Homo sapiens: one gene and its partners. The protein of the gene in region 3 interacts with the protein of the main gene of each other region in a biochemical or structural test. Each region holds a gene or a part of one and is shown on either strand. Other genes may lie near its edges.

Region 1 (3,500 bases), about 100 Mb from region 3:
CCAGCGAGGCCCTCAATGGCACAATCCTTGACCCCTTAGACCAGTGGCAGCCCAGCAGCTCCCGATTCATCCACCAGCAGGTGAGGCGGGGACAGTGGCTGGGAAGGCCAAGGAGGCTGGGGGACAGAGGGAACTTAGCTGGCAGGGGCTTAGGGAGCCAGGGGATGGAATGGAATTGGGGCAGTCGACCCTTCCCAACCAGACACTGCTCTTCCCACTCACCACGTGAGTGGAACAGTGACCAAGTGGTTAATCACAGGTTTCCTGGCCCAACTGTGGAAATTCCCTGGTGAGACTGGCTGTGGGCAGGAGCCTCCTGGGGGTGACTGGAGCTGCTCCTGGCCCCTGTTCCTTTTTCTCCCCTCGGGGTAGCCTCTGAGCATTCTCCTTCTCGCAGCCTCAGTCCTCATCACCTGTGTACGGCTCCAGTGCCAAAACTTCCAGTGTCTCCAACCCTCAGGACAGTGTTGGCTCTCCGTGCTCCCGAGTGGGTGAGGAGGAGCACGTCTACAGGTACTGCCCCAGTCTGCCCAGGGCACCTTCCCTCCTGCTTAGAAATCTCAGGGACCTGGCCAGGGTGGGAGGCAGCGGAGGCCCGGGAGCAGGCATAGCAACTGGGCCTTGTGGGGTTATTCTGGTTTAAGCTGCAGAAGGCCTGTCGGTGGGCCCGTCTACCTCATCAGTGCCATCTCCATGCAGTGGACATTCTGGGCTATCACAGCATCTCCGTGTAGCTGAGGAACTGAAGCAAGACTTCATTCCTCCCCTCTTCTTTTTTTCTTTTTTTTTGAGACGGGGTCTCGCTCTGTCACTCTGTCGCCCAGGCTGGAGTGCAGTCGCGCGATCTCGGCTCACTGCAAGCTCCGCCTCCTGGGTTCACGCCATTCTCCTGCCTCAGCCTCCCAAGTAGCTGGGACTACAGGCACCCACCACCACGCCTGGCTAATTTTTAGTAGAGACGGGGTTTCACCGTGTTAGCCAGGATGGTCTCAATCTCCTGACCTCATGATCTGCCCGCCTCAGCCTCCCAAAGTGCTGGGATTACAGGCGTGAGCCACTGTGCCCGGCCTCCTCCCCTCTTCTTACCACATCCCTTCCCTACCCTCTGTCCTCTTGCGGGGGAAGACTTCGCATCTCCTCTGCCTTGTTCTCCTTGGGAATCTGGGAACTGCCAAGCCAGTACAAGGCCAGAAAGCATCTCTCACTATCTTCTTTCCTTTGCCTCTCAAAGCTTCCCCAACAAGCAGAAATCAGCTGAGCCTTCACCCACCGTAATGAGCACGTCCCTGGGCAGCAACCTTTCTGAACTCGACCGCCTGCTGCTGGAACTGAACGCTGTACAGCATAACCCGCCAGGCTTCCCTGCAGGTAGGACCGGGTCCCTGGGGCAGGGTCTACCAGGGCCCAGGGCCCATCTGCTGACCTCTAGATCCCAGGAGGGCTCAAGGGCTGAGCAGCCTTTTTCTCTCCTCTCTGCAAGATGAGGCCAACTCAAGCCCCCCGCTTCCTGGGGCCCTGAGCCCCCTCTATGGTGTCCCAGAGACTAACAGCCCCTTGGGAGGCAAAGCTGGGCCCCTGACGAAAGAGAAGCCTAAGCGGAATGGGGGCCGGGGCCTGGAGGACGTGCGGCCCAGTGTGGAGAGTCTCTTGGATGAACTGGAGAGCTCCGTGCCCAGCCCCGTGTGAGTACCCACTGGGCCCTCCCCAGGTGGGGAAGGGCTGGCCCAGCCTGCCCCGGGTCCAGTGTCTGTCCCCTTAGCCCTGGTATCACCCACTCCCTCCCGTGTCTGCCATTTGCCAGGCACTGGGGGGATAGTGGTGAGTCACATGGACACCATCCCTGCCTTCAGCCAGTCACTGCCAGTCAGAAAGGACAGACGTTGTGCAGGCTGAGGGCGCCTGGAGCTTAGCAGCTCTTAGCACAGGCTTTGGGGCCACACAGTGGGGTTCACATCTTGGCTCTGACAGTTACTGTCAGCTCTCAAGCCTTAGTTTTCCCATCTGTAAAATGGGACAAGAACTTATGGGATCACTGGGATAAGACCACCTACCTCAGTAAGGGTGAGAACCAGTAATCCATGTAAAGCGCTTGGAATGGTTTCTGGTGTGTAGTGCGTGGCACACATGGTGAGTGCCCAACACGCGAGCTCTTACCAGTGCCGTCGTGTTACTGCAGTAGCCTCACCTCCATGTCCAGTGTTGTGGAGGAAACACAGGGCGCTTGGGCTTGTTTCGCAGGCCAGCTTTCACTTGGGCTGGGGGCTAGAGGAGTCTTCCTGGCACTTCCTGGTGCCATTGAACTGCCCTTTCTTCTGACCCAGTGATGGGTCCCCAGGAGAGACAGGGAGCTGGTGGACCTCCCTGGGGTTGGGGATGGTGAGACCCCAGTGTCCGAGGTGAGAGGTCGATCTGATCCCCGGGAAGTGTGGGGCTGACTGTGGGCTCCCCACTGATGCTGTGCCCACCCTGCAGCCCTGCCATCACTGTGAACCAGGGCGAGATGAGCAGCCCGCAGCGCGTCACCTCCACCCAACAGCAGACACGCATCTCGGCCTCCTCTGCCACCAGGGAGCTGGACGAGCTGATGGCTTCGCTGTCGGATTTCAAGGTGCCCTGTGAACCCTCCATCTTCCCTGCCCTGCCGCCCCTCCCTCATCCTTCTCCTCCCTTACCTCAGTGTGGGTAGCTGGATCTTGGCATCTCAGTGTTTGGGTGCCTTGCCCCTGAGCCAGGGACACTGTCATGCCCTGGCCTTGCTGTGATGCCAGGAGATGGGGAGGGAGGGCCGGGTCAGCCTGCCTGAGGATTGCAGTAGCCAGTGAAGGCAGACAAGCTGGAGAAGTGCTCAGCTGGGACATTCCTTCCTCCCTGGGTGCTCCCAGCCTCTCAGGTCGAGGGGATCAGGAGGCTGGGACGCTGGGACAAAGAACCTTGTGTTGATGGCTGCTCTGGGTGGGGGAGGGCATTCTCTGCTGGGCCATGTGGGACTTGGGAGCCTGTGCCTGGGAGGTCATTTGCCCTGGAGCCCCATCTCCCACGCTAGCTGTCCTCAACACATCCTCTTTCTTTCTGCCTCTGATCCTGAATCCACAAGCCTCCCTTGCTACTCTTCTCCCATCCTTCCCTCTCGCCCTCCAGGGCCTCTGAGTTCCCACGAGCGTGTCTGTGGGAAACCATGGGGCCAGGCTTGCACGAGGTACCTGCCCTTCCCCTCCCCTGCTGGGCCTCCCCAGTCCTGCCAGGCCTGAGATGTTTAATTTAGAGGATTCAGTGTTTCCTTGGGGATTGATATTGACAGAACTCACCAGCAGCTGCTGACTTCATACTTCCACGTGGGTCAGCTGGAGACCTTTGGGGCATGACCTAGGGAATATGAGAGGGGAGTGAACGGTCCCTGCACCCTTGGCCCTGATGGTGTCTCCTAGCCTCCCTTCAGCTGAGGTTTCATGGTGGGAGACAGGAGTGTGGCTGGGGTGGAGGGTTGAGCCTGGCCCTGTGAC
Region 2 (3,500 bases), on a different chromosome or scaffold from region 3:
ACACCTAAATCTTCTGATTAAAAACTTCAGGTCAGAAAGATATTTAGTTCTTTGTCTCCACTCTCGTTCTAATAAAAGGAAGGACAAGAGAGACTATAACTTAACAGAATTCCAAATGTATTTGGCATTTGGCTGAAGTGATATTGCCAAACTACCAGAACTATGGCAAAAGATATTGTAAGAAAACCCACAAAAGGTATTTAGTGGCTTGACACCATAAATGTGCGAGTGGCCTTTAGCTGCAAAAAATGATTAATCTTTCCATTTTAAACCAACTTCACCCTCCTTACCTCCAATATATTTCTATAGTGTCCGTCTTTCCTAATTTTGTGACAATTACAAATACATATGATATAAATATAAGAAAGATTCTGCGTACTGAGTGGAAGATGCCAGACACAAAAGAGAATATGGTTTCACAAAGTATAAATGAGCAAAAAAATCATGCTGTTGGAAGTCAAATAAATAGTTACCACTGAGGGACGGTTAAAATTGGAAGGAGGTACTGGTAAAACTCTGTCTTGATTCAGTGCTGATTAACTAGTATGTTCCATTTAGGAACATTTAGCAGGCTGTCCACTTCTATGTATATTTTCCTGTATGCATTTGACACTTCCATAAAGTAAATGTATATGTGTGTATTATATGTACATAATCTGAATTTTGAGTTCCCTAAAATATCATATCAGGTAGCAGGATATTAGAACTCAATCGTAAAGGTGTTGACACCAAATAGACTTTAGCAAGAGAGTGGGTGCCAAAGGCCAATATTTTCGCTGCAAAAACAGACTTTTCTTTATTTACTCAACCCGAGAGCCATAAAGAATGAACTTCAGACTTTGAATGTCTGTGTTAACCAATTAAGACAACAAAAGGAAAAATAATAACAAAGTGGTCACAGTTTCGAGTTTATTAAAGATTTATGTTAAGCGGGAGCGGGGGGATTACATCCCCTTTCAATTTAGTAAATGTAATTTTTTTTAGTCCTTTATTTCAGATTCCACTTAATAGTTTCCCAACCAACAAACAAGACATTTCGTGCAAGATTACAGTCAAGCCAAGTGTATCCACCCACCAACAACAGGTCAAGTTACAAGTAAAATAGTTCTAGGTTTTTCCCAGCAGCAAACAAATCAGTATCTGTACTCAGTTACACTACAGAATATTCACCGGAACTTGTCTGCAGTGGGTCATTTCAAGATGTGGACATGTATATTAAAATATGCCAAATAACATTATTAGTGTGCGAAAAAGTAATGCAAAGTGTTCAAATATGGAAAATGTTTGAACATTAAACATTAAAACTTTTCAAAAATTGGTGGTGGAATATCTTGCATTTACTTTCACCCTGAAGAATATGGAAAAAAGAGTTTCAAAAAAAATGTGTGGTCTTGTGGCCTGAGAGTTTATAGGCTTTCAGAAAGTATTTTAAGTTCCAAGATTCATTAAAAAAAATTATTTTTGAGTACTTACCAGCATATTATTTGTTGATCAAAACTATTAGAAGAACTTTTAAAAACTGATTATGAATGCTTCTAAAATGTTTTTTCTCTCCTAAAGACCACAGGAAAAAAGAATGAAAATCTTAACCAAGCATTATGTTTTGGCTTCAGATGCCAAAAGAAAGCAAAATATTTAAGGCCAAGATTAAACAGAGAGTGTAATTCAAAAGTTAATTATTTAAAGAAAAAAAAATCAACTAAGTAGAGAGAAACTGAAACTCTTCTTTATTGTGACAGTCATTCTCTGGGTATTATACAAAAAGGGCTGCAGTCTGATAAAGGGAGAAACCCGTATGCTTTGTAGTCAAGCCCAACTTGAATATGACAAATATGGTTTTATTCTGGATTCTCATATTCAGAATGTTTGAGTTCCAGTTTTACCATCTCTAAAATGAGAGCAAAACCACCTATCTCATAGAGTTACAGAAACAATGAACTGAAACATAATAGTTTCCTTCCCTGAAATTAAAAATACTTAATTTCTGAGGTTTAATACTAACAGACATTGGCTTGAAAAACTCTTTAAAGAGGCAGCAGCAAATACCTAGTTTCAAGGGTTTTCTCTGCTGTATCTGCTCTACTGAGTTCTGTGAATGACGTACTGACAATTACCAAATATAAAATAAATTGAGGAATGTCTTAAAACTGCAGATGTGGGAAAAAACTAAAAGGGCAATCCTTACAACCTTTAACGAAAGCAGTAACATCAAAATCCAATATTTAGTGCAACAGAAGAAAGTTAAGAAAACTCAAAGTGTATTTTAGTAATGAAGGGAGAAAAGAGTCATTTTACATTTTTAGTGCCAGTGATTTCTGGAATAATAAAAACTCCAAACTATGCACCTTTTAATTTACTTTTTAAAACTAATTATTTAATCCACCCAAACATTAAGTAACATATCAGAATGGAAAGAAAATCTGGGCATACATGTTTTAAATTATAATGGCCAATTAATGTTTTTAATTACACAAAAATCAGTATTAAAATTAAAACTACAATATATGGGAGTAGGTAAGTACACTATCTAATTTTTAAATTATAGCTAGGTATATTTTATGAAAGAAAATCTAAGAACAGATCATGGATCAAACATCTCTGCATTATAATTCCCATACCATATGTATAATAGCAACTCTTTTTAAATAGCTCAAGCTGCTTTAAAGCACTATACAACTAATTCTCCCAATGCTACTTTGAAAAACCCAAGTTAAACTGCTTACTTAATCAAGGCAGTGGGTACACTAGAACTCTCATTCATATACTAAATGTTCTTCTGTATCTCCAGTTCCACATACTAGTAAGGTCCACTTTCAATTACACTTCCACTATTAGAACAGATGAAAAGTTAAACATTCAATCAGTCAGGAGAATGTGAAATATTACCATGGTTTACCCAACTATTATAATCTCTCAGGCACTGAGAACTCAGCATAAAGTGGTTATTCCATGATGTCAGCATGGAAACGTATCCATTATTTAGCTATCCATTAATTCAGCCAATCTTCCTTTGGATCTACTTATAGCTCAGGCTGCTATAGGTTGTTCTAAACCTAACTTGGATTGTCCTAGTGTTAGTTTAGGTTATCTTCATTCTTAAATCTACTGTTTGATTGTATATTTCTCAGTTATAGCTTATATTGTGGTCTGTGTCAAATTAATCCTCATTCAGAAGCCTGAAATCCTCATTTATTTTGGTTGTCCTTCTCTGTAGCTTTTTTAAATTTTATTTTGAGGTGGAGTCTCGCTCTGTTGCCCAGGCTGGAGTGCAGTGGCATGATCTCGGCTCACTGCAACCTCCGCCTCCCGGGTTCAAGTGATTCTCCTGCCTCAGCCTTCCAAGCACCTAAGATTACGGGTGCCTACCATCATGCCCAGCTAATTTTTTGTATTTTTAGTAGAGACAGGGTTTCACCGTGTTAGGCAGGATGGTCTTGATCTCCTAACCTCGTGATCCACCTGCCTTGGCCTCCCAAAGTGCTGGGATTACAGGCATCAGC
Region 3 (3,500 bases):
AATAGCACAAAAAAGGGAAACATTCATCATTTAAATCTCATATAGATTACTATTAATATAATTCTGATCTTGCACCACTACTTGTAGATAAATTGCATTCCTATTCTTTTAATTTGCTAGTAAATATACCAAAAATCACATTTAAAAATAGGTTTATTTAGTTTAAATTTTCATTAAGATAGAAATAGTTTTGTTAGAAAAATGAACTGTGCAGCATTCCTATTTATAAAGAGTGAAAAACCAAATAGATAAAGAGTATTTGATAAGAAAATACATTTATTTGCATATAAATAGAATTGCAGTGTATTTGTTTTCATCAAATGTTCTTCATTTCATTCTCTAATTTCCCCTATATTCATTTTCTTACAGAAATTACCATTCATACTCATAATTTGCAATACCGCTCTCAAGCTTGAAGTCCTATTTCCATTTCTGATTCTCTGTTTCTGAAATATTTTTCCAAGCATATATCACTTTTCTCCCTTTCATCTCAATTTCCTGAAAAAAAGGAAAGAAAAAAACCTTTTATCAGGAAATCCCCGCAACCTTGTTTCAAACATCTTCTGTTTGTTTGGTGGTTTTAAAATATTCAGAAGAAAAAGGAGCTGGCCTTTAAGTAACTAGAATGTCTAAGGAAAGAAGAAATCTTTCATTCGGGAATTAGATGCTGAAAGACTTGCGAACGCTTTTCTGGCACAAGGCTAAGATATGATCTTACTCATAGAAATAAATTCAAAGGTACAATGTGCAGAGGAAAAAAAATCTAAGGATTGGTGTTCTGAAGACCTAGAACAAGCTTGGAAAAGGGAAACATTAGGAGTAATTGGTGATAGCAGATTACATGAGAGGTATTTAATTAAGGAGGTTATTCACATATACTTTTTTTTTTTTTTTGAGACAAGTTTCACTCTTGTCGCCCAGGCTGGAGTGCAATGGTGTGATCTTTGCTCACTGCAACCTCCGCCTTCTGGGTTCAAGCGATTCTCCTGCCTCAGCCTCCCGAGTAACTGGGATTACAGGTGCCTGCCACCACACCTGGCTGTTTTTTGTATTTTTAGTAGAGACGGGGTTTCACCATGTTTGCCAGGCTGGTATCGAATTCCTGACCTCAGGTGATCCACCTGCTTCAGGCTCCCAAAGTGCTGGGATTACAGGCGTGAGCCACCTCTTATTGGCTGATAGAAACCCTATGGGACCTGCTGGAGTCAACAGCACCAGGAGAGAAGGAACCCATTCACACTCATCCCAATCCATTCACACTCTTGCTCACTTTACTTGAGCCACATTAACCTTGTTTGGGTTCCTCAAATCAATGACACCAGCGCACAAAAAAAACTTACATATTTATTTGAGCAAAAAGAGCTGATATAATGGGTATTTAAGATGACTATAGAAGAGTTCTGTAAGAAATTGGGTTATACGACCTTGGATTAAACACTACCATAGGGATAACCAAGACCAGGGTGTAGAAAATACTTCATCTCTTAAGGGTGATGTCTGACAAAACATTAGGAGGATTTCTACTAGGAACACAGAAATCTTGGTCAGTTCTGGTTGGTTGTGGTCATAGCGGAGTGGTGATGTGGAAGAGGAGGCAAAAATATTACCTGTATATCTGGGTACTAGCTGAAATTGTAGGTCACCCATACAGGTTAAAAAAATCAATTTCCCCTAGTATGTCATTTGCTACTTTTTAATTAATAACATTAAACAGAGGTGAGGTAACATTAATGAATAAATGAGCAACTGAGAATATTACATTTCTGGGAAAAATAACTGATATTTTAATTTATGGTTTTAATAAGATTCTAATATAAGTGATTGGTAAAATTTTTACTATTTGAATGTAATGAGTGCATTGTAGTTATGATTATTTAACTCCCATAATGATAATTTTCCTATATTTTCCTTAAAGATGTGTTCACAAGTCAATATTACAATATTTCATAATTCTCAGTCAGAGCTTTTATATAATGCAGAAAATTTAAATCTGTTTATTAACCTTCTATTAAATTCCTAACACCACATACTAGCACCATGAAAGATAGAAATATTACAGTAGACATTCCTTTATTTCAAAAATATTTACAACATATTTGGAGTAATTAAATGAAAACATTAAGTGCTTTACAGTAAAGCTCATCACTGCACTGGGATATGTTTCTGAAAATGCAACATCACTGAAACTGTGTACGGAGAGGCATTAAATTAGGGGAAAATGAAAACTTGTGGTCATTGTTGTTAAGCCTTCTATTGTGCCACACTGCTACCAATTACAATGTTTTACTTAAGTGCATCAACTGTATCTGACATCAAACATTCTTTTACAACCCCTCAAGTTAGAATTATATTTATAAGGTTCAGGAGTAAATCTGCTTATACGTTTAAATACCTTTAAGTTGGATATTTAGATAGTAGAAATAGTGTTACATTTTAAAATAAAGTACAACTCATATTGTTTTTAATCAGTTATCCACATAAATGTGCATTTTCTTTTGGGCCAAAATGAGGCAGAGGTGTAATGTGAATTTTTCATTCCTTCACACAACGATAGTCTCTCACAAAACAAAGAACAAAAGGAAACATATGTTCACAGTGGGAAGGATTATTACTCGATCATCTGTAGAAGCATGGCCCAGGGAGCCTTTGCCAACCTACTGGGGATGTCACATGTAAAAAGGTTTCTCCAAAAGGTTGGCAATATGATTTATTAAAGGAGTCAGATGACATGGGAGTTAAGGGCAGCAAACTTCATTGTGATGGAAAGGATCTAAGCTGCTCCAGCAAAATGAAAGGATTATGGTTCACCTGCCAACACTGTGCAATTTATGGATGAAACCTCAACCACGAAAAGTGAAACTTCTTTGTGTGTGTGTATGGGGTTGCGAGGGGAGACATAGGAAAGGAAAGGCAGACAGACCGTGGAAAACAGATATTTCCCCTGGATAAGAGTAGAATGGCCAGTATCATAACACTCATGTATTATAGAATTAAATATAAACCTGTTTCAGAAAGTACAATATTAAGACCCTTTTTAAATTTGATATTCTTTGATGATATCTCTGGTAAAAGCAGAAATAGAAAGAAATAGAGAGAAGGGGTTAAAAAAGAAGGACACACGCCAAGCACTTGAGTTTAGGAATATATTCCAGCTGACTACTAAAAAGCAACATTTCAGGGAAGGCCAACTTCAAATTCCTATGATGTCATATTCCACGATTTGCACCTTAGTAGACAAAGTACTTATACTGAGTAAACTGATACAGGAAGACATTTTCTAGGAGGGCTTTAGTAAAGATAGGACAAGTGTAGGAAGTTACATTTCTTTCACTGGGAATTATGGGAAGACACACAACAGCGAGGCTCGCCAGATAAATACCTCACTTGCATTCATCCATAGAAGACTTTGAAATTAGTAGCCTTCAATATAATAACAGAGTTCCATTTTTTCTTCTATTTTATATACACCATCAATATTGATATAAAAATAAAAATTTTCA
Region 4 (2,905 bases), about 94 Mb from region 3:
GCAACCATCCTCCCGCCTAGCAGGACAGCCCTCCCAGTATAATTGTCCCCTGATGAGCACCAGAGTCCCCGCACCTGCACTGTCAACCCCTGGCCAGCGTTACTCTCCCCTGCCCAAATGTACTGTCTCCATGGGGATCATTATCCCCCAGCCAGCACTACTGTCACCCCCACCAGCATCACTCTCGCCCTGCCAACATGACTCTCCCTGGCCAGCATTATTACCCCCACCAGCATCACTCTGCTCTCCTCCCTCCACCCCCACCTTCCCCACAGCCACACCAACCTCAGCCACCTCTCAGGCCACCACCACCACCATCACAACCACCCAGTCCAGCCCCCAACCACCAACACTCTAAATGCCTCCCGGTCAGGACTTCTGCCCTCACTCTCACCCCTGCCCCTGGCTCCCCCCAGGCATTTCCTAGCTCTCCCATCTCCCTCGCTGCAGTCTCATGCCTGTTACCATCCCTCCCACCCCTGCCATCATCCTGCCATCTCCACCGTCAATGAATAAACATTTATTGAGCACCGGCAAATCCCAGACACTACAGAACACACAGAAGGCATGGCCCCACGCCGAGGGCCCCAGCCCCTTGCAAAGCTGCCACGCTGCCAAAAATGGTGGCGCATGCAGCTCAGGCGCAGGCTGAGGCTGGGGCTTGGCCGGGCAGTGCACTTGGAACGGGGTCCTAAGGCCTCTGCCAGGTTCCAGCTGGGGCAGGGGTCACGTCGCTTCCTGAGAGCAGAGCAAATAAATAATGGAGAGGCAGGGGCTGGGGCCTGAGGTGGAGGGGCTCTGGCGTTGGCTTATGTGACTCCATAGGAGCAAGACAGGTGGCCGGGAGCCCCCACCCCAGGGTGGGGAGGCAGAGCCAGGGGACCACAGGGTCCTGGGGCCTCCCTGGCACCTCCACTGGTCCCTCGCCTCTGGGGCCAAAGCAGGGTGTGGGGGGACACCCCAGAAGGCACTGCTGAAATGCGGCTGGACTAGAAATGAGTGGGCAGAGAAGCTGGGGCTGGGCTGCAGTCCCTAGAGCGGGGCGTCATCAGTCCTCCACTTGCGGGGGTAACCCTGCTGGTGGCCATCGCAGCGGGGGTTCCCCATGCTGTCCAGAGGCACCACCACCTCGTCCGGGTTCGAGTTCTTGTTCAGTTCCACCACGCGGGGTACCACCGAGGACCAGCGATCTGCACCGAGAGCACATCAGAGGGAGGGGTGGGGGTTGGTGGAGAGAGAGCGTGCGTATATTGAGTGCCTACTGTGTACTGGGCACTCCACAGTGTTCTGAAGGGGGGATGTGACTATGCTCATTTTACAGAGGTGGAAACTGGGGCTCAAGAGAGGTCAAGGTGCCTCCCCAGGAGAGAATGGAGGAACCAGGATTCAAGCCTGGAGCCGAATGCCCTGAGTGCCTGTGTCCTCTCCAGCTGCGTCTCGCGTGCTCATGGCTTACTGGACAAACAGGAAGGTTTTCTCCACACAGGGATGGCTGAGGAGCTCGTCCTCCCTCCCCAGGCCAGCTTATGTCAACAGTAGGGAGGGCCAGGATGAAGCCACGTAGGTGAGGTGCCCCAGGCATTCACAAGCAGCAGAGGAAGCTCAGGGGCACACTCTCTCATTCTGTAGACACGGACACTGAGTCCCGGAAAGAAGCAGGACTGCTCAAAGCAAATTCGTGATGAGAATGGACTGGGGCTCCCCTCCGCACCCGCCCCTCCACTCACCCCTGCGGAGGCGGCCCACGGTATGCGAGAAGCCATAATACTGGTAGGTCTCATTCTTGCCCGGGTCCTCGTTGATGATGCCCAAGTTCTGGTTCCAGTGAGACCAGTTCACCTCATCCACCCTGGCAGGGCCCAAGCAGAGGGTCATGGGGAACCCCTCAGAGACGCTCTCCATGCCACCATCCCCAGCACACCCTCCTATTTTTTTATTATGGTAACATATACATAACAAGGCTGGGCGTGGTGGCTCATGCCTGCAATCCCAGCACTTTGGGAGGCCGAGGTGGGTGGGTCATTTGAGGTCAGGAGTTCGAGACCAGCCTGGCCAACATGGTGAAACCCCACCTCTACTAAAAATTAAAAAAAATTAAAAAAAAAATTAGCGGGGCATGGTGGCGGGTGCCTATAGTCCCAGTGACCCGAGAGGCTGAGGCAGGAAAATCACTTGAACCTGGGAGGCAGTTGCAGTGAGCCGAGATCACGCCACTGCACTCCAACCTGGGGGACAAAGCAAGACTCCATCTCAAAAAAAAAAAAAAAAAGACGTGTGTGTGTGTGTGTGTGTGTGTGTGTATACACACACAAAAAATTTGCCATCTTAATCATTTTTGAGTATACAATTCAGTGGCATTAAGCACATCCACATTGTGTGACCATCACAGCTATCTATTTCCAAAATTCTTCCATTCCCCCAAGCAGAAATTATTTTTTTTAACCTTCTTTTGAGACAGGGTCTCACTCCATTGCCCAGGCTAGGGTGCAGTGGCACGATCACAGCTCACTGCAACCTTGACCTCCCAGGCTCAAGTGATCCGCCCACTTCAGCCCCCCATGTAGCTGGGATTACAGGGATATGCCACCACACCTGGCTAATTTTTTAAAAACGTTTTGTAGAGATGGGGTTTCACTATGTTGGTCTTGAACTCCTGGGCTCAAGCAATCCTCTTGCCTCGCTTCCCAAAGTGTTGGTATTACAGTCACCACGCCTGGCCCAGATAATATTTCACTGTACACATAGCCCACATTTTGTTTATCCACTCATTTTTTTATATATTATCTTTTTTTTTTACATATTATCTTTAATTTTTTATCCTATCTATTCATTTTTGTTTGTTTGTTTTAAGGCAGAGTCTTGCTCTGTCCGCCAGACTGGAGTGCAGTAGTGCAATCTCGGCTCA
Region 5 (3,500 bases), on a different chromosome or scaffold from region 3:
AGGTTGTCTTTCTTACTGATTTGTAAAAATTATTTGTGTAATCTAAATACTTTGTTATGTGTATTGCAAATATGTTCTCCTAATCCCTTTATTGTAACCTTGTTTGTGGTGGCTTTTAACCCACAGACACTTGACATTTTGATGCAGCTGGACCTGTCAGTATTTGCCTGTGTGATTTATACTTTTTGCATTTTGGAATTATTCCCTATCCCAAGGTCATAAACATATTCTCTGTGTTTTTCCTAGTAGTTCTAGTGTTGTTTTGTGTATTTAGGTCTTTAAGATATAAAAATGTTATTTTGGGGTGCAGTATATTTTAATATTTTTATTTTAATCTTATTTATTCACATATGGCATGTCAGTGGTCCCAATGCCACGTATTGAGTAGTCCCCATGGTGAGTTGTGATGATTTCTGTATCATATGCCAGGTTCTCATATTCATTTTGCATCTATTTCTGGATGTTCTGTTCCCTTCCATTGATCTGTTTGTTCCTGTACCATTTCCAGCATATTAACTATAAACTTGTGAAATGTCAGTAACTATGGGATGAATCACTATTTCCTATTTCAAAATTATCTGAGGTGCTCACTCACCTAAACTACATAAGTTTCATCCTCATTAGAATGATACACTCTCAAAATCACACTATCATTATCATATTTATAGGATTAAACAAAAACTAGTTAATAGTCACTGGGAGTCGACTTGCCTTGGATGATTGTATGAAGTTTGATGGAGGGTCAATGCTGGTGGTGGTAGTAGGGATGTGAGATTGGCAGGGTAGGAGTTGATCCCTATAGGGTCAGGAAATCCGAGGAAGGAGGATGTGAATGAGAACATCTCATTTTTACCTGAAAATATTTGTTAATATGCTGTGTTGTCATTGATCATGTATGTTCATAAGTAAAATTAATACTTCCAGTTATAAAGTTTGTGTTGGTTTCCAGCCTAGCAATTACATCTGGTCCAGGGGTAAGAAGTGGAGTGAATTAGATTTGGCGTATCACCCCAATCATATGTTAAAAATAATATATGTGTGTTATGTTTTCCTGTTGGAAAACATTTACATGGGGAGTATTTGACCCTTACAATGACTTTTTGAGGAAAGTAGAGTAAGAATGATTATCACAGTTAACAGATGAGGAACCTGAGGCACAGAGGAGGGTAAGTGACTTGCCCAAAATTATGGAACTAGTACGGCATGGGGATTAGGATTCTAATCCACATTTTAGTTCTATTTTTCCCCCCACCATGCTACAAATGTCTTGCACTTGTCTCTTTGGATGGGCGACCCACTGCTTCAAAGCAACTATGCTTCTAGAGGTTCTTTAAGTAGTGATATCCCGTTTCTAAATTGTTTAAGGTCTGATTAGTGTTTCCTAAAGCATTTTAGAATCTATTGTAGAGTCACCCAGAGAACCTGCTAAAATGTAGATTGCTGGGTCCAGACCCGCTGAATTTAAATCAAAGGTTTATTGAGCTATCCCTAAGAATGACTCCTTTCAGGCATAAAATGGTAAGTTGGTAGATGCAAATTTATGATTTTTAGTTGGCACAAAAATTATATTCATTATTTTTCTAACAAGCTTCTAAAAGACACTGCTGCTTTTTGTGACAGGCTTAGAAGACCACTGGTTTATGAAGTTGAATTTTTTGAGCCACAACTATACAAATATTAACTATGTGATCATAGTAATCTGAAAATGTTGGTATTTCTATTACTCCTTCAATCTCATGTGGGAAGAAAGGCTATTGTATATTTTTATAAAAATATACAAAAGACTTGGTACTGGATGTAAAGAAAGTTAAGACATACTGTTGATTAATTGTGATTTTTGGATACTGTACCATCTGCTAGACATAGAACATAACAATCAGATTTGGAAGGTTCTAAATCCAATACCTAATTCTCATAAATTGCCACAGTCCCCTAAAGAGTAACAAGGGGGAGTCAACATAATGAAAAGAAGAAATTTAAAATAGAAAGGATGTACCTTGAGATACTTCTCAAAGGTTCTAAATTGTTTATAAGCAGTAACTTTCATGTGGAAAAACAATGGTGTATGGAATGAAACAGCCTATGTCTACTATTCGCCTACTGGGACAAGTACAAACCCCTTAAACTTTTGAAGTCTCAGTTTTCTCATCTCTAAAATGTGGATCATAAAAAATCTCAGTACTGTGTGGTTATACAAGTCAAGAGAGTGTCTGCATGTGGAAGCACATTGTAAATAGCCTCATAAATGTAAGGTACAGTTACTATTAAGGACAAGAGCTCGAATCCATTCTTTTCCTGGATCAAATAGGCTTAGCCTTTATTGGATCACGAACTTCCCTTCTAGCCTGTGCCCTTTAGAGTTTGAGTGAGAATGTAGTGATGCTGCGGTGCCTGTCATCTTCACATGTGGAAAACCTCAAGGCATCTCTTTCTCATCCTGCCCGTGTCCCTGAATGGAATGTGATTCCACTTTTCCCCAAATCCCTATAATACTTTGTCTACTAAAAGTTATTAGCACATTTTCTCATGTATACACTGACCTGCCTGCTGCTCCATAAATTGAGGGCAAGGACTGACCACATGACACTAAGACTATGGACTACAGAGCCAGACTGCCAGGAGTTGAATCTTGTTTCTTCTACTTAACAGTAGTGTCACCATGGCTAAGTCACTTAATCTCTCCAGACCTCAGCACTTACAGAAAGATTGCTATGAAGAGGAAGTGAGTTAATATATACAAGAGACTAGATCAATGCCTGCCATATTGTAAGCACTATATAAATGCCAGCCCTCAGAAGCTTTCCATTCTTCCCAGCATCAAGAATAGTAAGTACAGGTTTGTGGAATAACAGAATTTCTAAGGCCTTCATTTAGTGTCAAGATGACAGATAGATGATATGTGTTGCCATTTCTCTGTCTGTGCCACTCTTTCAAGTCTGCGTGGAGTCCAGTAGCCACTACCAATTGATTGGGGTACCATATGAGAAAACATTTGTTTGCCTTATATGAGCTGACATGAACTCTATCTCAAAAGCATAATGATCTAGGCCATGGTAGTATATCTTAAGTGAATCTTTTTTCTTTTTAATTTCTAGTTCTTCCTCCTCAACCAGAAAACATCAAGATTTCCAACATTACACACTCCTCAGCTGTGATTTCTTGGACAATATTGGATGGCTATTCTATTTCTTCTATTACTATCCGTTACAAGGTTCAAGGCAAGAATGAAGACCAGCACGTTGATGTGAAGATAAAGAATGCCACCATCACTCAGTATCAGCTCAAGGGCCTAGAGCCTGAAACAGCATACCAGGTGGACATTTTTGCAGAGAACAACATAGGGTCAAGCAACCCAGCCTTTTCTCATGAACTGGTGACCCTCCCAGAATCTCAAGGTTGGTTGAATGGACAAGTATTTACATAGGATTACCGTGCAGCCCTATAGGCAGCTGGTTTATCAGGACAGGCCTGTGAGATGAAAGCCTATGAAAAGTCGGTGG
Region 6 (3,500 bases), on a different chromosome or scaffold from region 3:
TACTTCTGCTCCCGGGGCAGGGAGAACCAAAGAAACAGGGATGGTCAGGCCAGAAATGCCTTCAGGGATCTTCTAACCGAGCCCATCCCCCTTTGTATAAATAAGACCCCCGCTGCTCAGAGGGGAAAGGGATTTGCCCAAGCCACATGGTTGAGCTGCCCTCCTACCTCACATAGAATCTTACAAGGCATGGTGAGCTCAGGACCACCCAGGGAGGGGCAGTTATCAGACCAGCACCCAGGACTCTAACTCTTCCCCCACTTCAGAGCAGACAGGCACAGGCTCTCATGCTGCCTCAGCGTCCTTCTTCAGGGCCTCAGTTTCCTTTGCTGTGAAGTGGTGATGACCTTACTCCATCTCCCAGGTCCCTGGGACCATCCCCGGGGGGCAGTGGGGGTGAGAAATGGACCCAAAGAAGGAGCTGCCTCTGTGTCAAAGGCCATGTGTATTTCCTCCTCACTTGGACCCGTGTTGTTGGACGGGGCAGGGTTTCAGGGCCCTACTGGCTCTTTGGGCCTTGGACAATCCTGTGACAGGATCCAAGTGGTCAGGCGGTTCATGGTCATGTAACCTGGGGTTATTCACACTTCTGAAGGAGCCCCACGGTTCGGTATGGAGGTAAAGGCCTGAGGGAGGCAGCAGGACAGACAGTGCTCTAGGCCCCCTCCCTGCATCTAATCGATCAGCTTCCATGTAGGATTCCATTTCATAAAGCTCTCTGCTGCTAAAATAAACTCACAGCGCCAGCCCATCCCCTCCTAGAACCAGCAGGGAAACTGAGGCCCAGAGAGGACAAAGGGTGGTCCCCTAAATGCCAGCCCATCACGCAGAGCCTTGTACTCGGTGTCTGACTTCTGCACCAGAGCTCTCCGTGCTCCACCCCTACCCTGCCTCAACATACCTTTTTGTAACCTTCGCCCAACAGTCTCTCGAGAAGCAGCACCAGCTGGGAGAAGGGGGGCCGAATCTCAAACTTCTCTTCCCAGCACTTCTGCATGATCTCATAGCTGGGGATAGGGAGAAGGGTCAGGGCCTCTGGCCCAGGGTTCAGGGGACAAGGCAGGGCTGGGGGAGCAGGAGGCTGCTGCCTCTCAGAACAAGGTGAGCCATGGAAAGGAGCTGGAGGGAAGTGGTGGCTGGGTGTATCCAGAGGTCCTGTCTCTGGATATTCCCTTGGGAGGCCCTCGCAGAGCCCCCATTCCACATGGTTCCACAGGTTGACTACGCCTGGGTGAGCACAGGAGCCAACCTTCGCCAACAGTTTTCAGCCCTGCAGCTTCCACGGTTGGTTCTTGATGGCATGTGACCCCACCTGAGCCCTTGAAGGTCAGCTCTGGGACTTTTGCTGGCACTATGGAGCAAGCAGTAGGACATGAGACTGGCACTGCTGGTAGCCATTTGGGCAATGCTGGCCTGAAAATGAGGCCACACAGAGCAAAGCAGAGCTCAGGGCTAGAACAAGAGGTTCCTGATGCCATCCTTTGAATGGCTGGATCCAGTTACACCAAGGCTTTCTAGATCTCTGAGCTAACAAATCTCTCATCTTTGGTTTAAGCCAGTAGAGTTGGATATCTATTGTTTGCAGCACAAAATCCTCCCAAATGCATGAGACTCCACTCACATCTCGTCGGAGGCATGGGCAGGCTGGGCCATGCGGTAACCCCGTTTGATGGCATTGTAGAACTGCTCGTTCATGGGCAGCTCTGGGTAAGGGGTGCCACCTGTTGGGGAGCAGAGACAAGAGATACACAGGCTCAGGGGTGGAAAAGTGGCAGGGCACCCTCTTCTACAGGACAAGGAGAGCCATGCTGGCCCTGGTATGGGTAAGGGGGCAGTGCCCCTGGCATTTGGAACTGTGGGCTCCTTCATGGGCTCTGAACAGAGACCACAACCCTCCCCAGGATAGACAGCCAGAATGTGAGAGCCAAGCAGGCTTTCTGATGTCACTGTTCAAACCTGTCAATGCTCAGACAGGGAGATAAAGAGACCCAGAGAGGGCAAAGAATTTGCTAACATCACACAGCAGGGAGAAGGTAGCAGAGCTGGGACCTGAACCAGGATCCCTGTATCAGGGCTCGTCCCATAGCCCCACCAGGCCAGAGGCATGAGTGGTCGAGGTAGACACCAGGCCAGGATGCTGAGGGCTGGAGGAGGAAGCAAGCATACCCAAGGTGAAGATCTCCCAGAGCAGGATCCCGAAGGACCACACGTCGCTCAGGGTGGTGTAGAGGCTGTTGAAGATGCTCTCCGGAGCCATCCACTTTAAAGGCAAAAAGGTCTGTAGGGAGGTCAGGACAGGTGCTGAGTGCAAGGAAGGACCTCAGCCCCACTCTGCACCTGGGATGGGAGGAGGGTATCTGGCAGCTCCCACCCACAACCACTTCTCCGTCCCATTCCCTGTGAGGGCCCTGGTCTCTGCGCAGCACAGTTCCCATGTCCATCCCAGGGCTGGTCAGAGGACCAGAGGCTGTTTCCTTTCTCACTAGCTGGGGACAAGGCAGCCCCTGTCCCTGGGGAAAAGCCCCAGGGTCTGAGTAGTGAAGTGTGGGAGCCAGGGACTTGTCAAGGCACCCCCCAAGCTCTTATCCTGGCTGCCTTTGATCTCTGGGCCTAGCGTCCCTCCATCTGGGGTTTGCGGAAAAGTGGGGAGATGAGAGACAGGCAGGATGATCACGTTTTAACCAGACCAATCCCTGCTACTGCATGTGACCTGCTCATCTTTCTTGCCCTGTCACCTGGGCTTCTTCCTCTGCCCACCACCACTGGAACAACACATTCGGCCTGTTCCCCCTTCCCCCACCCTGGACCCATTATAGCCAGCCCTCCCCGCCGCTATACTTGCTCCATGCACTCCTGGGCGGCTCCCCATCCTGTCCCTGCACACATAGCTGGGCAGGCACAGCCCATCACTGCTGTCAGGGCAGGCCACAAGGAGCCCCACACAGATTTCCTATGAGCTGCAGCCACACTGGTCAGGAGGGAATCTGTTCCTGCGGTCACAGGCACTGTGACTGCCCTGCAGGGGCCAGGGAAGGTACTCACGCTGCCTTTGGAGATGTAATTCGAGTCCCGCATGATGTCTCGAGCCAGGCCAAAGTCACAGATCTTGACCAGCTTGCCTTCACAGATGAGCACGTTCCTAGCCGCCAGGTCTCTGTGGACGCACTGGGTTTGGGGAGAGGGGAGCTGAGGCCTTGGGGACAATTGTGGGGAAAGACCCTTCATGTCAAGGGCTTTGGGAAAATACAACACTGCCCATGTGCGAGAGGCCACCCTGGTGTGCTCTTGGAGGATGCTGGCTGGCTGGGTGACCCACCTCCCCACAGCCCCCACTCTGCCCCACCAACACCACACGTACGTTCTTGGAGGCCAGAAACTCCATGCCATTGGCCACCTGGTAGCTGAAGCCCACGAGGTCCATGTAGCTTAGCACTGGAGACTCGTTGATCAAAGTTGCTCGGCAGGTCCTCTCAGGGGCTAGAGGAGAAGCAGAGGGTCAC
Region 7 (3,500 bases), on a different chromosome or scaffold from region 3:
CATCTTTCCTTTCCTTCATGAACTAAATGAACTGGTATATGAGGCAGTTCTTCTTTAGAGAACTACTAAATGCAGATGGAATGACAAAATTAGGAAATCACCATTTTGTAACCCCTAATGAAATAATGACTCTAAGAAAGAATCATTAATGAACCCCCAAATCATCAGGGTAAATACCAATGAAGAACTTTATGACAGAGGAACAAGTCTGACACCTGAACCACTAAGCAATCTTAGCATTACTAAAAGTAGGACATCCAGAGATCACCTTCTAATGTGATCAAGCCTCTAGCTCTACTCGCCAGTTCACAAGAAATACAAGAAACACAGGCATATTAAGTGACACCACAAGAAAACAATCTGTTTCATCTAGATTATGGCTCATTTTAGTGTTAAATGACCTGCTTTCATCAATAAATCAAAAATGTAGAATAAGAGAAACATAAGAGATATATTAACCAAAATGCAGTGTGTGGGTCCTGATTTGAATAAACCAACAGTAAAAATAAGTATTAGAGCTAATCGGGGAAACTGGAATTACATAATTGGTTCCATCCTTAGACCTGGGCCAGAGAAGCTCTTGCTCTAACCCCACACTTTTGAGAGCTCTGCAAAAGTGCGTGTTCCCTCTGACCTGTGTTCCCATGCTCCTTTCTGGGTAACTAGGACCCCAGAACACCCTGCTCATTTCCAAGGTCTACATGGGCCTTCTACTGGGTCCATCTTCTAAAAAACAAATTGTGCTGGCTGGCCATGTGCATTCCCTTTCACTGAGGCTGAAGGTGTGGCCATGATGCGGGGTAGCTTTTGCAAGCCACGCAGTAAGAGTGTGGGTGTACAGGTTGGAAGATCCATATGGTACATGAGAGATAGAGCCAGGGCAGGAGGGAAGAAAGAAGAGAGGTAGCCCCCCCAGAGCCAGCTTTCCATGCACTGCAACATTCTGGCACAGAGCTCTAAATCCAAACCGTGCCTTTCTTGTCACTATGAAAGGGTATTTGTCAAGTTGGAGGATAAAGTTTGCTAGCTTGATTTATAACTCCTAAATACTTAGATATATGTTATGTGGATTCTCATTTGTACTCTTCCTCCAGGTACAAAAATATTAAGGGAAAGTCTACAGACGATCTTATTTAAAATACTGTTATTAAGAATGATAATGACATGGTGGTGTTTTTTTTAAGTCTTTAGAATTTAGATTTAGGAGTGAAATAACATGATGACTTGAATTTACTTTTAAATATTCTAGAAAAAAATGGAAGGATTAGACTGGCAAAATGTTGGTAATTTTTGAAGTCAAGCAAAAAGAGATTCTATTATACTATTATATACTTTTTGGATGCTTGAAAATTTCTACAACAAAAAAAAATTAAAAATAGAAATCAATCTTATACAGCATCCGATAAAGAGAAGCAGTGACAACCTTCCTGTAAACATGGAATAAAAGGTTAAGAGTTGCAAATAAGTTAATAATGCACAGCAAAACAGCACTCATATATGCACCATGCCTAGGAATCAAGCAGAAGAAAAGGACCCCGCCTAAACTAGAGGTTTCCACTGCTTCTCCAGAAGTGAACTGAGGAACAGTGACTTGAAATTGGGGCTGGGGCTGGGAGGTGAGAGGGCAGGTGGAAGAAGAGTGTGCTCTGGCAGGACAAAAAGTTCTCCTCTTCTCATCCACTGGAACTCAGAGTATAAGTGGGATTGCACTGCAGAGGTAAACACAGGATACAGAGTTTGCTTATGAAGCCTGCAAGATACTCATCCCCTACAGTTACCCCTATCTGCCCATATATTTATCAATGATAGGGTTGAAAGGACTGTTTTCTTTAAATCCTAAATTAACTTGTACAAAAAAAAGCTTGCTGTTTAATTTCCTGCATGTACATATATATATTTTATATATACATACACAAACACATATACACACATATAGACACACACATATACATATATATATATTCTCTTATTCCTCCATATATTCATGGAGAGAGAGAAAGAAGTGAGAAGAGGCTTCATTATACTGTGTATGTGTATGCATACACACACGCACATACACATACGTATATATAGAGAGAGAGAGTCTAAGAAAAAAATTACAATAAACTCTTAGAAAAATCTAAGATTACTTACTTATGGCAGGTGGGGACAAAATATAAAATTTAATTTCCCTCAAGGTCAAAATAATCACATTAAACATGTATCAGATGAGAAAGAGACCAATGTATTCTAACTTTTGAAAAGAAGTGATTGATCAATTCGCATTTACTGAGTGACCACTAAGAAAGGACTGTGTTACTACCAAGTAATAAGGTGTGCTTCCATTTATGGCTGGTGAAATTAGTCTCATTACACGATAGTTACGACTTATCTACTTCTCACTCAACACTTGACTCCCACCTACCCACTGCATATCACACACATAGAGGGAATACTTACCCATATTTATCTCTTGCTCTCCACCAATGAACATCATTCTTTTCTAAAATGAGATACTCTTGGCCTCTCTCTAATCTGAGATCATGTCCTTCTGCTGCTTGGAAATCATACATGGCTACAACGATTTCTTCACTATTATCTTCTTCTTCTAGTGGAATTGGTGGGGGAGGCCTTCGCTAGACAAGGAAGATAACATTTGAAAGTTTAGTCTTCTATATGAAACTGATCATGAATCAAAACACTAAATGAGTCATACATCACCACAGAATAAACTAGAAACTTCAAGTCTACTTACTATAATCCAACAAACTCTCATGAAGAAGAGTATTATAATTCCTGTTTCATAACTAAGGTAACAATGATTTAATTAACCCACTCAAAGTCACTCATATCAGATCAAGTCTTGAATGAGTCCAAAGTGCATGTTTCCTCCACTATACCCCACTCCTGAAAGGCATATCATTATATCAGTGAAGTCACTTCTTTGTCACACTGTGGTCTTAAGACTGAAATATTTATCTAAATCCCACTCCTCTTAATACAACTCTTTAAGTGAAAATAGAGGCAAAATGCCAGATGATAACAGGATCTCCAATGATAAAATCTCATACAATTAAATTGGTATTATTTGACACCACAAAAAATTGAAATAAGCTACAGCACATCTGCTTCTGAGACGATCCTAGGGAAAAATTGTGTCACATCAATGAATAAACCGCATACTCAGTAAGTCACAAACACTACCAAAACTTAAGACTTAAAGGCTTAAAATGTAAAGATTAACTATCAAAAGCTAAAGACCACCTACCTTCTTTGTTTCTGGTGCTGGAGGTAGTGCTTTTCTTATACCTGAAAATGCCAACAACAAAAACAGATTAAAATGCTATCTACCAATAATTGATAAAAATAAGATATGGGTAGTTTTAAGGAAAAGTGGAAGTTAACACATAGACAAGCAGCACACTCTGACCAACTCTGGTGTATGCTGCTTGTATCTCTATTCTAGAACAGAATTAAAAACTGCTATTATAGCTGGTTTGTATTTCTGCCTTTCTGAACGC

Evidence for each region.
Region 1: of the proteins of PTPRO (region 3) and PXN, one has a biochemical effect on the other in vitro, tested with the Homo sapiens proteins (one large-scale study listed by IntAct).
Region 2: of the proteins of PTPRO (region 3) and CDH2, one has a biochemical effect on the other in vitro, tested with the Homo sapiens proteins (one large-scale study listed by IntAct).
Region 4: the proteins of PTPRO (region 3) and TRPV4 interact in a test that uses a peptide from one of them, tested with the Homo sapiens proteins (one large-scale study listed by BioGRID).
Region 5: of the proteins of PTPRO (region 3) and TEK, one has a biochemical effect on the other in vitro, tested with the Homo sapiens proteins (one large-scale study listed by IntAct).
Region 6: of the proteins of PTPRO (region 3) and PDGFRB, one has a biochemical effect on the other in vitro, tested with the Homo sapiens proteins (one large-scale study listed by IntAct).
Region 7: of the proteins of PTPRO (region 3) and TEC, one has a biochemical effect on the other in vitro, tested with the Homo sapiens proteins (one large-scale study listed by IntAct).

Annotation. Positions count from the first base shown.
Region 1 is NC_000012.12:120,220,731-120,224,230, reverse strand, and holds part of PXN (paxillin), read left to right. Parts: coding exon 1-80; exon of another isoform or gene 81-397; coding exon 398-513; exon of another isoform or gene 514-1,231; coding exon 1,232-1,368; exon of another isoform or gene 1,369-1,480; coding exon 1,481-1,682; exon of another isoform or gene 1,683-2,472; coding exon 2,473-2,608; exon of another isoform or gene 2,609-2,916; intron 2,917-3,305; exon of another isoform or gene 3,306-3,500. UniProt on the Homo sapiens protein: Cytoskeletal protein involved in actin-membrane attachment at sites of cell adhesion to the extracellular matrix (focal adhesion). Recruits other proteins such as TRIM15 to focal adhesion.
Region 2 is NC_000018.10:28,167,131-28,170,630, forward strand, and holds part of CDH2 (cadherin-2 isoform 1 preproprotein), read right to left. Parts: intron 1-3,500. UniProt on the Homo sapiens protein: Calcium-dependent cell adhesion protein; preferentially mediates homotypic cell-cell adhesion by dimerization with a CDH2 chain from another cell. Cadherins may thus contribute to the sorting of heterogeneous cell types.
Region 3 is NC_000012.12:15,325,508-15,329,007, reverse strand, and holds part of PTPRO (receptor-type tyrosine-protein phosphatase O isoform a precursor), read right to left. Parts: intron 1-3,500.
Region 4 is NC_000012.12:109,782,589-109,785,493, forward strand, and holds the end of TRPV4 (transient receptor potential cation channel subfamily V member 4), read right to left. Parts: intron 1,850-2,905; coding exon 1,728-1,849; intron 1,191-1,727; coding exon 1,033-1,190; 3' UTR 501-1,032; downstream 1-500. UniProt on the Homo sapiens protein: Non-selective calcium permeant cation channel involved in osmotic sensitivity and mechanosensitivity. Activation by exposure to hypotonicity within the physiological range exhibits an outward rectification.
Region 5 is NC_000009.12:27,199,725-27,203,224, forward strand, and holds part of TEK (angiopoietin-1 receptor isoform 1 precursor), read left to right. Parts: intron 1-3,095; coding exon 3,096-3,395; intron 3,396-3,500. UniProt on the Homo sapiens protein: Tyrosine-protein kinase that acts as a cell-surface receptor for ANGPT1, ANGPT2 and ANGPT4 and regulates angiogenesis, endothelial cell survival, proliferation, migration, adhesion and cell spreading, reorganization of the actin cytoskeleton, but also maintenance of vascular quiescence.
Region 6 is NC_000005.10:150,117,846-150,121,345, forward strand, and holds part of PDGFRB (platelet-derived growth factor receptor beta isoform 1 precursor), read right to left. Parts: intron 3,478-3,500; coding exon 3,359-3,477; intron 3,166-3,358; coding exon 3,043-3,165; intron 2,279-3,042; coding exon 2,167-2,278; intron 1,722-2,166; coding exon 1,622-1,721; intron 1,008-1,621; coding exon 902-1,007; intron 6-901; coding exon 1-5. UniProt on the Homo sapiens protein: Tyrosine-protein kinase that acts as a cell-surface receptor for homodimeric PDGFB and PDGFD and for heterodimers formed by PDGFA and PDGFB, and plays an essential role in the regulation of embryonic development, cell proliferation, survival, differentiation, chemotaxis and migration.
Region 7 is NC_000004.12:48,165,339-48,168,838, forward strand, and holds part of TEC (tyrosine-protein kinase Tec), read right to left. Parts: intron 3,289-3,500; coding exon 3,248-3,288; intron 2,616-3,247; coding exon 2,440-2,615; intron 1-2,439.